Homo sapiens: one gene and its partners. The protein of the gene in region 2 interacts with the protein of the main gene of each other region in a pairwise test. Each region holds a gene or a part of one and is shown on either strand. Other genes may lie near its edges.

Evidence for each region. Proteins that work in one complex are often made in the same cells at the same time.
Region 1: the proteins of TNFSF13 (region 2) and SGTB interact in binary tests that used the Homo sapiens proteins (3 or more experiments, as listed by UniProt).
Region 3: the proteins of TNFSF13 (region 2) and CAMK1D interact in a two-hybrid assay, tested with the Homo sapiens proteins (one large-scale study listed by BioGRID and IntAct).

What each region holds. Positions count from the first base shown.
Region 1 is NC_000005.10:65,677,110-65,680,609, reverse strand, and holds part of SGTB (small glutamine-rich tetratricopeptide repeat-containing protein beta), read left to right. Parts: intron 1-53; coding exon 54-116; intron 117-3,500. UniProt on the Homo sapiens protein: Co-chaperone that binds directly to HSC70 and HSP70 and regulates their ATPase activity.
Region 2 is NC_000017.11:7,557,464-7,561,549, forward strand, and holds the start of TNFSF13 (tumor necrosis factor ligand superfamily member 13 isoform alpha precursor), read left to right. Parts: upstream 1-1,286; 5' UTR 1,287-1,576; coding exon 1,577-1,834; intron 1,835-2,160; coding exon 2,161-2,239; intron 2,240-2,382; coding exon 2,383-2,430; intron 2,431-2,585; coding exon 2,586-2,704; intron 2,705-2,886; coding exon 2,887-3,025; intron 3,026-3,260; coding exon 3,261-3,370; 3' UTR 3,371-3,535; coding exon of another isoform or gene 3,536-3,542; 3' UTR 3,543-4,086. Other genes in the region: TNFSF12-TNFSF13 protein, read left to right, coding at 2,161-2,239, 2,383-2,430, 2,586-2,704, 2,887-3,025, 3,261-3,370. UniProt on the Homo sapiens protein: Cytokine that binds to TNFRSF13B/TACI and to TNFRSF17/BCMA. Plays a role in the regulation of tumor cell growth. May be involved in monocyte/macrophage-mediated immunological processes.
Region 3 is NC_000010.11:12,821,547-12,825,046, reverse strand, and holds part of CAMK1D (calcium/calmodulin-dependent protein kinase type 1D), read right to left. Parts: intron 583-3,500; coding exon 495-582; intron 1-494. UniProt on the Homo sapiens protein: Calcium/calmodulin-dependent protein kinase that operates in the calcium-triggered CaMKK-CaMK1 signaling cascade and, upon calcium influx, activates CREB-dependent gene transcription, regulates calcium-mediated granulocyte function and respiratory burst and promotes basal dendritic growth of hippocampal neurons.

The DNA of each region.
Region 1 (3,500 bases), on a different chromosome or scaffold from region 2:
ATTTATTGTAATTGTAGATACTGGACTGATTCTCAGATATAATTGTTTTACAGACAGGAACTGGACTGAGCTTTGACATGGCTAGCTTGATAAATAATCCAGCCTTCATTAGTATGGTGAGTATACTTTCTTTTCTGCCTCTACTGGCTATGTTTTCCATAGACTATGTAGCTATGCAATTTTTTTTAGAAACAAGTGAGTTTTTGTGGTGGTGGTTGTAGTGGAGTATTGATATAAGGCTATAGCAGGGTTCTGTTTTTTTATTTCCAACTTTTATTTCAAGTGCAGGGGTAAATGTGCAGGATGTGCAGGTTTGTTACATAGGTAAAACGTCTGCCATGGTAGTTTGCTGCACAGATCCTCCCATTACCCAGGTATTAAGCCCAGCATCTATTAGCTGTTCTTCGTGATCCTTCCTCTCCTCCCATCCTCTGCCCTCCAACAGGCCCCAGTGTGTGTTGTTCCCCTACATGTGTCATTGTGTTCTCATCATTTGGCTCCCACTTGTAAGTGAGAACATGTGTTATTTGGTTTTCTTTTCCTGTGTTAGTTTGTTAAGTAAAATGGTAAAATGGCCTCCAGCTCCATCCATGTCCCTGCGAGGGACATAATCTTATTTCTTGTTTTGGCTGCATAGCATTCCATGGTGTATATGTACCGCATTTTCTTTATCCAGTCTATCATTGATAGGCATTTGCATTGATTCCATGTCTTTGCTATTGTGAATAGTGCTGCAGTGAACATACGTACGAATGTGTATTTACAGTAGAAAGATTTCTATTCCTTCGGGTATATACCCAGTAATGGGATTGCTGGGTCGAATGGTATTTCTGCTTCTAGGTCTTTGAGGAATCACCACACTGTCTTCCACAATGGTTGAACTAATTTACATTTCCACCAACAGTGTTAAAAGCATTCCTTTTTCTCCACAACTTCGCCAGCATCTGTTGGTTTTTGTTTTTTTTGTTGTTGTTGTTGTTTGTTTGTTTTTTGAGACAGAGTTTCACTCTTGTCACCCAGTCTGGAGTGCAATGGTGTGATCTTGGCTCACTGCAACCTCCACCTCCTGGGTTCAAGCGAATCTCCTGCCTCAGCCTCCTGAGTAGCTGGGATTATAGGCACCCACAACCATGCCTGGCTAATTATTGTATTGTCAGTAGAGATGGGGTTTCACCATGCTGACCAGGCTAGTCAAATGACCTCTGGTGATCCGCCTGCCTCAGCCTCCCAAAGTGCTGGGATTACGGGCATGAGCCACCACACCTGGCCTGTTTTTGAGTTTTTAATTATAGTTGTTCTGACTTGTGTGAGATGGTATCTCATTGTGGTTTTGATTTGCATTTCTCTAATGATCAATGATGTTGAGCTGTTTTTTCATATGTTTGTTGGCCACATATATGTCTTCTTTTGAGAATTGTCTGTTCATTTCCTTTGCCCACTTTATAATGGGGTTGTTTTTTTCTTGTAAATTTGTTTAAGTTCTTATAGATGTAGGATATTAGACCTTTGTCAGATAGATAGATTGCAAAAATGTTCTCCCATTCTGTAGGTTGTCTGTTTACTCTGTTGATTGTTTCTTTTGGTGTGGAAAAGAAACTCTTTAGTTTAATTAGATCCCATTTGTCAATTTTTTCTTTTGTTGCAATTGCTTTTGGCATCTTCATCATGAAATCTTTGCCTGTGTCTATGTCCTGAATGATATTGCCTCGGTTTATAGAGTTCTTATAGTTTTGAGTTGCACATTTAAGTCTTTAATCCATCTTGAGTTGATTTTTGTATATATATGGTATAACGAAGGGGTCCAGTTTCAATTTTCTCCATATGGCTAGCCAATTCTCTCAGCAACACTTATTAAATAGGGAATCCTTTCCCCATTGCTTTTGCCAGGTTTGTCAAAGATCAGATGGTTGTGAGTGTGCAGTCTTATTTCTGGGTTCTCTGTTCTGTTCCACTGGTCTATGTGTCTGTTCTTGTACCAGTACCATGCAGTTTTGGTTATTGTAGCCCTGTAGTACAGTTTGAAATTGGGTAGCATGATGCCTCAGCTTTGTTCTTTTTGTTTAGGATTGCCTTGGATGTTTGGGCTCTTTTTTGGTTCCATATGAATTTTAAAATAGTTTTTTCTAATTCTGTGAAGAATGTCAATGGTAGTTTAATGGGAATAGCATTGAATCTATAAATTGCTTTAGGCAATATGGCCATTTTCACGATTTTGATTCTTCTATCCATGAGCATGGAGTGTTTTTCCACTTGTTTCTGTTCTCTCTTATTTCCTTGAGCAGTGGTTTGTAGTTCTCCTTGAAGAGTTCCTTCACTTTGCCTGTTAGCTGTATTTCTAGATATTTTATTCTTTTTATGGCAATTGTGAATGCGAGTTCATTTGTGATTTGACTTTCGACTTGCCTGTTGTTGGTATGTAGGAATGCTAGCAATTTTTGCACATTGATTTTGTATCCTGAGACTGTGCTGAAGTTGCTTATCAGCTTAATAAACTTCTCGACTGAGACAATAGGGTTTTCTAGATATAGGATCCTGTCATCTGCATATAGGGATAATTTGACTTCCTCTCTTCCTATTTGAATATGCTTTATTTCTTTATTGTGCTTCATTTCCCTGGCCAAAACTTCCAATACTATTAATTTGTTGAATAGGAGTGATGAGAGAGGGTATTTTGTCTTGTGCTGGTTTTCAAGGGGAACACTTCCAGCTTTTGCCCATTCAGTATGATATTGGCTGTAGGTTTGTCATATATGGCTTTTATTATTTTGAGGTATGTTCCTTCAATATCTAGTTTATTAAGAGTTTCTTATATGAAAGGATGTTGAATTTTCTTGAAGGCCTCTTCAGCATCTATTGAGATAATCATGGGGTTTTTGTCTTTAGTTCTGTTTATGAGATGAATCACATTTATTGATTTGCATATGTAGAAACAGCCTTGCATCTTGGGGATGAAGCCTCCGTGATTGTGATGGGTAAGCTTTTTGATGTGCTGCTTGGATTCAGTTTGCCAGTATTTTGCTGAGGATTTTTGTATCAATGTTCATCAAGGATATTGGCCTGAAGTTTTCTTTTTTGTTATTGTATCTCTGCCAGGTTTTGGTATCAGGATGATGTTGGCCTCATAGAATGAATTAGGGAGGAGATCCTCCTTTTCAATTTTTTAGAATAGTTTCTGTAGGAACGGTACCAGCTCTTCTTTGTACCTCTGGTAGAATTCAGCTGTGAATTCGTCTGGTCCTGGGCTTTTTTTTTTTTTTTTGGTTGGTAGGCTATTTATTAGTGCCTCAATTTCAGAACTCATTATTGGTTTATTCAGGGATTCAATTTCTTCCTGGTTCAGTCTTGGGAGGATGTATGTGTCCAGGAATTTATCAAGTTCTTCTAGAAATTCATTAGTAAAATTTCTAGTTTATGCGCATAGGACTGTTTATACTATTCTTTGATGGTTGTTTGTATTTCTGTGGGGTCAGTGGTAATATCATTTTTGATTGTGTTTGTTT
Region 2 (4,086 bases):
TCCCTCTAGAGGCTGCCTGGGCCTGTTCACGTGTTTTCCATCCCACATAAATACAGTATTCCCACTCTTATCTTACAACTCCCCCACCGCCCACTCTCCACCTCACTAGCTCCCCAATCCCTGACCCTTTGAGGCCCCCAGTGATCTCGACTCCCCCCTGGCCACAGACCCCCAGGGCATTGTGTTCACTGTACTCTGTGGGCAAGGATGGGTCCAGAAGACCCCACTTCAGGCACTAAGAGGGGCTGGACCTGGCGGCAGGAAGCCAAAGAGACTGGGCCTAGGCCAGGAGTTCCCAAATGTGAGGGGCGAGAAACAAGACAAGCTCCTCCCTTGAGAATTCCCTGTGGATTTTTAAAACAGATATTATTTTTATTATTATTGTGACAAAATGTTGATAAATGGATATTAAATAGAATAAGTCATAGTCTCTCTCTTTATTGGGGCTCAGGGGACACTCTCAGGGTAGCTGGGGGCCACGTGAAGGGGGGCGTTGCGGAGCGGCACAGCTGGAACTCCGGGATGATGTTCAGGCTTGGGGGCGGGGACCTCCATGCCTCCAGCCCCCAGGTGGGAGCAGAGGTAGGAAGGCACACTGCCCAGGAAAAAAATCAATCCTCCGCCCAAGGTACAGCAGAAGCGGCCTCCTTGGCCTAGGAGGCAGACTTCCTCCTGCGGGGAAATCCCTTCCTGGCTGGGAGGAGCAGGGGCCCTTCCTCTTGGTGGCCTCGGACATTCAGCAGGTGCTGGCACAGGCCCTGGCTGGGAGGTGGGGCGGGCAGGAGCCAGCCTGGAGGAGGGGCTGAGAGTCAGCAGGCACACGGGAACCCGGAACCCTGTGTGCTGGGGAGGAATCCCGCAGTGGCCGGGGGGCTTGAGGCCGCTGCTTTGTCTCTTCGTCCAGAGCCTTATGTAAGAGCTTTTCTCGGGAAACAGGAAGTCCTGCTTGCCAATTTCAGCACAGGGAGTAGTGCAGGCCTTATTCCAACACACCCGGCCCAGCCTTAACCCCAGAACTCAGCCAGTTTCTTGCTTCCGTGCCCCTGGTTCTCCTCCCCATCGAGCCCACCCCTCCTTTCCCACCTTCAGTCACCCCTAGTGAACTGCCCCAGCGATCTCTGCTGTGCTTGACCCCGAGGGTCTTCCACCCTCGCCCTGACCCTGGACACTGCCCAGCTTGGCCCCCCATCCTGCTCCTGGCACAATGCCCTCTAGCCAGCCAACCTTCCCTCCCCCAACCCTGGGGCCGCCCCAGGGTTCCTGCGCACTGCCTGTTCCTCCTGGGTGTCACTGGCAGCCCTGTCCTTCCTAGAGGGACTGGAACCTAATTCTCCTGAGGCTGAGGGAGGGTGGAGGGTCTCAAGGCAACGCTGGCCCCACGACGGAGTGCCAGGAGCACTAACAGTACCCTTAGCTTGCTTTCCTCCTCCCTCCTTTTTATTTTCAAGTTCCTTTTTATTTCTCCTTGCGTAACAACCTTCTTCCCTTCTGCACCACTGCCCGTACCCTTACCCGCCCCGCCACCTCCTTGCTACCCCACTCTTGAAACCACAGCTGTTGGCAGGGTCCCCAGCTCATGCCAGCCTCATCTCCTTTCTTGCTAGCCCCCAAAGGGCCTCCAGGCAACATGGGGGGCCCAGTCAGAGAGCCGGCACTCTCAGTTGCCCTCTGGTTGAGTTGGGGGGCAGCTCTGGGGGCCGTGGCTTGTGCCATGGCTCTGCTGACCCAACAAACAGAGCTGCAGAGCCTCAGGAGAGAGGTGAGCCGGCTGCAGGGGACAGGAGGCCCCTCCCAGAATGGGGAAGGGTATCCCTGGCAGAGTCTCCCGGAGCAGGTGAGTGAGGGGAGGAGGGTGTCTGGGAGAGGATGGTTAGCATGGGGGGTCTCTGGGCCTCCTGGTCTGCAAAGTTTCAAGGGGGTGCAAGAGAGGGTCTCCGGTTTGGAAGTCAGGGGCGCGGCCATTCCAGGAAAGGAAACTGTTAAAGGTTAATGCTTCTCATACCTAACAAATCCTGGAGGGCAGCCAGCACCAACACTCAGGGTGCTGGGAAAAGGTGCGTGAGAGATCTGAGGCATCTCGGGGGCAGGGGAGGGCTGGGAAGGCAGGCTGGCTGGGACCCTCGCATCTTAACCTAACCTTGACCCTCTTTCCATGAGCAGAGTTCCGATGCCCTGGAAGCCTGGGAGAATGGGGAGAGATCCCGGAAAAGGAGAGCAGTGCTCACCCAAAAACAGAAGAGTGAGGCTTCCAGGGTGCAGCAGGGGTGGGAGGTGATCAAGCAGCGTGGGGATTGTAAGCCCGAGTCAGGGTGAGGGTGGAGGCTGCCAACAGCACAACGGGGGAAAGTGGATGCGGCTGAGATTCCCTCCTTCTCTCCTCAGAGCAGCACTCTGTCCTGCACCTGGTTCCCATTAACGCCACCTCCAAGGGTGAGCACTATTTTAAATAATGGCTTTGGGGAGGGGCAATAACCAGGAACTCGGGCTGGCACTTGGGCTCAAGGGGTCCTTATAGGTGAAAGGGAAAGAACCAAAAAGCACCTGAGAGTGCCAAGAAGTCCTGACCGACACACTCTCACCTCCAGATGACTCCGATGTGACAGAGGTGATGTGGCAACCAGCTCTTAGGCGTGGGAGAGGCCTACAGGCCCAAGGATATGGTGTCCGAATCCAGGATGCTGGAGTTTATCTGCTGTATAGCCAGGTAACCCCAGCCACACTCTGAGCTTCACAGAGGGCCTCTTTGGCCCCCTACTGAGGGTTCCTGACCCCTCTATTCATACCAAACCCAGCAGACCCTTCTTTCTTCCCTCGTTAGCGCTCCTGAGGCCTCCCAGAACTGAGCCAGGCCATCCTGTTTTCTTCAACATCTCCCTTCCCTGCCAGGTCCTGTTTCAAGACGTGACTTTCACCATGGGTCAGGTGGTGTCTCGAGAAGGCCAAGGAAGGCAGGAGACTCTATTCCGATGTATAAGAAGTATGCCCTCCCACCCGGACCGGGCCTACAACAGCTGCTATAGCGCAGGTGAGAGCCGTGTGGGCAGCCGAAAGCAGGACGTCTCTGACCGGGGGTAGCAGTGCAGGGAGCTACCGCTAGGAGGGAGGTTGGAAACCTAAACAGAGGCGGGTCTGAGGAGTGAAGTGCAGAATGCCGGGTCCTTACAGGAGGCAGAGGAACGGTGGAGCTGGAGAAGGCAGGGGGAAACAGGGCATCTGGATGGCTGTGCTTCACTGCGAATCTACTTTCTCTCTTTTCTCAGGTGTCTTCCATTTACACCAAGGGGATATTCTGAGTGTCATAATTCCCCGGGCAAGGGCGAAACTTAACCTCTCTCCACATGGAACCTTCCTGGGGTTTGTGAAACTGTGATTGTGTTATAAAAAGTGGCTCCCAGCTTGGAAGACCAGGGTGGGTACATACTGGAGACAGCCAAGAGCTGAGTATATAAAGGAGAGGGAATGTGCAGGAACAGAGGCGTCTTCCTGGGTTTGGCTCCCCGTTCCTCACTTTTCCCTTTTCATTCCCACCCCCTAGACTTTGATTTTACGGATATCTTGCTTCTGTTCCCCATGGAGCTCCGAATTCTTGCGTGTGTGTAGATGAGGGGCGGGGGACGGGCGCCAGGCATTGTCCAGACCTGGTCGGGGCCCACTGGAAGCATCCAGAACAGCACCACCATCTAGCGGCCGCTCGAGGGAAGCACCCGCCGGTTGGCCGAAGTCCACGAAGCCGCCCTCTGCTAGGGAAAACCCCTGGTTCTCCATGCCACACCTCTCTCCAGGTGCCCTCTGCCTCTTCACCCCACAAGAAGCCTTATCCTACGTCCTTCTCTCCATCTATCGGACCCCAGTTTCCATCACTATCTCCAGAGATGTAGCTATTATGCGCCCGTCTACAGGGGGTGCCCGACGATGACGGTGCCTTCGCAGTCAAATTACTCTTCGGGTCCCAAGGTTTGGCTTTCACGCGCTCCATTGCCCCGGCGTGGCAGGCCATTCCAAGCCCTTCCGGGCTGGAACTGGTGTCGGAGGAGCCTCGGGTGTATCGTACGCCCTGGTGTTGGTGTTGCCTCACTCCTCTGAGCT
Region 3 (3,500 bases), on a different chromosome or scaffold from region 2:
GGCAAAATAGCTAGCTCTGAATTGCCATTGCTGATTGGAACACGGAGGGGAGGTCAGGTAATCAAGAGATTAGGAAGTCAGGTAATCAACAGATGATCACAAAACCTCCATGGTTTAAATCTGTCAAACTTTTATCAGGAAACATTGATGAGTACAACTCAGATTTCCTGTTTTTTCCCCCTCCATATCGCTTTAATAAAAGTCAGCTATTCAAAGTTCTAGCAAGGTGAAGAAAGACAAGGGTGATGTTGGTTAAGAAACAGCAGATGAGGAAGAGCTGGCACTATTGCTGTCTTTGATCACAGAGGGGAAGTGTTGAATTGCACACTCCATCCCTCTTACACCATAATATTCCCTCTGAGTCTTTATTACTTGCAGTTAAAATTAGCAAAATTATTCAGGTGAGGTTCTGGGGATTTCAGAAATGCTCAGATTGGAGGGCCAGTGTCACGAGGGGGTTAATCCACGGGGAATTTCATATACTCCACACTTACTCTCCATTTGCTCTTGGCAAAGTTTTTCCGGATCTGGGCGCTGACGGACTCGTGGATGTTTTTGTTGAGGGCTGTGTCACCAGCGATCCTGAAACAGAGGCAAAGGTGCTGCTCTGAAGTGCTTCTTCTGGGCCCTGACACTGCGTCCCATAAAGGGGAGTCTTACCTAGCCTCAGGAGAGCCGAGGCTCAGTCGTGGACAGGGTGGCTGGCCGCTGCCCTTCCAGGCTGCTGATGTCATCACCTGGCCATTCCCTAAACCCACCCATTCTAACCCCTCACCACAAAGTCCTATTCCAGCTTCTACACTCCGCACCCTCCCCAGACCCGCCAGCGCCCTCCTGGTTGACTACTCCCCGGCTCTCATTTTTTCCTTCTTTGACCCCAATTCCTGCAACATCAGAATCCACAGTGACAATGTCTCCCATCCTTCTCCCTCCCCCTCATCCCCTCTGCCTCCACACAAGCTTTTGAGCCACCATGCGCCACCTCCAAGGTCTCACACTTGTTCCCCAACTGGTCTCAGCACCAGACCCCTTCCCGGCCTTGCTTCCCAGCTTCCTCAGACCCGAGGTCCCTCCTCTCTGTCTTCCCCAGGGGCGCTGCTCCCAGGGCACCACTCACACCCGTGGGCTCTCAGCTTCATCTCAGCAGAGCTGAGCCTGCCACATTCTGCTTGGCAACACCTGTGAGCCCATGCCCCCCACCCACTCTATGCTGGGTGACAGGATTCCCAGCTCCACTCAACCCCGCCTGGTACATCCTCCACCCTTGCATCTCCTTGAAATTCTTAGAACTTCAAGGACGGCGTCCACCCTGCATTCACCTGAGCCCTTGGCAGCCCCGGGTAAGCTTTAACTCTAGCTGATTCCTGAGCCTGCCATGAGCAGGGAAGAACTTAGGTTTGCTCCTGGCCTTCTCTCCTGACAGTACCCTCCATCCCACTCTTTCCTCCCTCTGCTGTCTCTTTCTTGGGTCTTACAGCCTCCTCCTCTCTCTCGGCTCACAATATCCAGGCTGAGAATTACCTGGCAGTCTCCCAGCTCTTCCTTCCCTCATGCATGCCCTTCTCGATCACAGCCTCCTCCTCTCCCTACAGGCATCCACTTGGCCTTTTCCCCCTGGGCCTCTGTGCTCTGCTCCCAGTCTTTCCTGGGCTTTGATCCTTCCCTCTTCCCTTCCCTCTAGCACCAAACTATTCAATTCTGGGTTACTATCTGATGGCTAAGAAAGAGTTTCATGAATCTTGCAGAAGTTAAGGGGATCAGAGTCAGAAACCAACGTTATGGGCTGGAAGGTAACTGGTAAGGGAGAAAACCTCTCACCCCTGAGACACTGACTGCCCTGGACATTAAACAGCCCAGACACGGCAACCATCACTTCCAACTACTTCAGGAGATGAAAGGAACACGGCTCAGGCATATTCAGACAAGAGAGAATACCAGCCAGACTTTCTTTCCCATCAGGACTGCAAACAGGGTGGACAGAGTCGATATAAAATTGGGGCCAGGCTGGCCTAAGTTTAGAATCCAGGCTGATGTTCCCAGCTCAAAACAACTCTCCCCCACCACCTTTTCCCAGCAGGGCTGCAAACACACAGCCAAGGGGACGTGCAGGAAATATCTCAAGCAAACTAGGTTTTCATTTCCAACAACTGTCAACTGCCTTCCTTCCCAGACACATATTCCTGAAACAGAAATAGAGTATTTGAATGGGCAACTACATCTGAAACAAGAGTAACAAGACAAAGAGGATGAGAGAATGAGAGACATCTTTATTAAGCTTTTTTCCCCGGAGAGCCCAAGGGAGTGATTCCTCCTGGACCCTGTTGAAAAGCTACATCCTCAGAAAAGGATGCCAGTCCAAGCTTGCAGCGGCCAGCTCTTTCTTAGAAACGACAAGGCCAAAGTGGTGGGGAGTCTGGAATTCCTCAGGCTGAGCACTGCTGCAGGGCAGAGCCAGGCTCCAAAGCAAACAGGCTGGTGCTGGGGTCGGGGAGACTCTGGGCCTCGGGGTCCACCTGCTTGTCCGCAGTGTGGTCTCAGACCCCACGGCCCGTGGCCTGCTGCCTATACTCTGTGTCCCATGCTATATCTGTGGGTTCACATGGGCCCAGATGTAAGAAAACAGAAGCTTCTAATTATTTTAGGAATGCTTCATGCTCATTTCCCACAGTCCTGGGCTGTGCAGCAGTGGGGAGTCCAGCTGGGCAGAAGGTGGCCCCCAGGCTCTGTGTTACACGGTCTTCCTGCAGCAGTGCAGCCATGTCAGGCCACAATAGTGCACCGTGGCCCTCCCCAAGTACAAGCCGCAATGACAACGGTGACCCATGCTCATGATAAGCTAGGAAACTTGCAATAGTAACATCCGGACAGCGCTGATGCTCAGTGTCACTAACTTCAGCACGCTTCGCCAACAAAACCAGAGGCATGGAGTCTAAACATTGGAAGGGATCCTAGTGGTCAATGCTTCTGATACAGCAGGATTGCTTTATCAATCCATATACACACACTTAGGCAACGCTATGGGTGAACACATTTCATTCATGTCTCCCTTGCTTTTCTGTTTTCTTTTTTTTTTGAGACAGAGTCTTGCTCTGTCGCCCAGGCTGGAGGGCAGTGGTGCGATCTCGACTCACTGCAACCTCCGCCTTTGGGTTCAAGTGATTCTCCTGCCTCAGCCTCTTGAGTAGCTGGGATTACAGGCATGCACCACCATGCCAGGCTCATTTTTGTGTTTTTAATAGAGATGGGGTTTCACCATATTGGCCAGGCTGGTCTTGAACTCCTGACCTCCAGCGATCAGCCTGCCTTGGCCTCCCAAAGTGCTGGGATTACAGGCATGAGCCACCACACCCGGCCAGCTTTCTGGTTTTAATACCTACAAGAACAATGCAGATAGCATTTACGTAATCACACCTTTTACAGCCTGTCTCACTATCCACCACTCACGGACCACAGCCTAGTCTCCCCTGCCTTTCGTGGTTTTGTGTTTTGTGTGTGGTCTC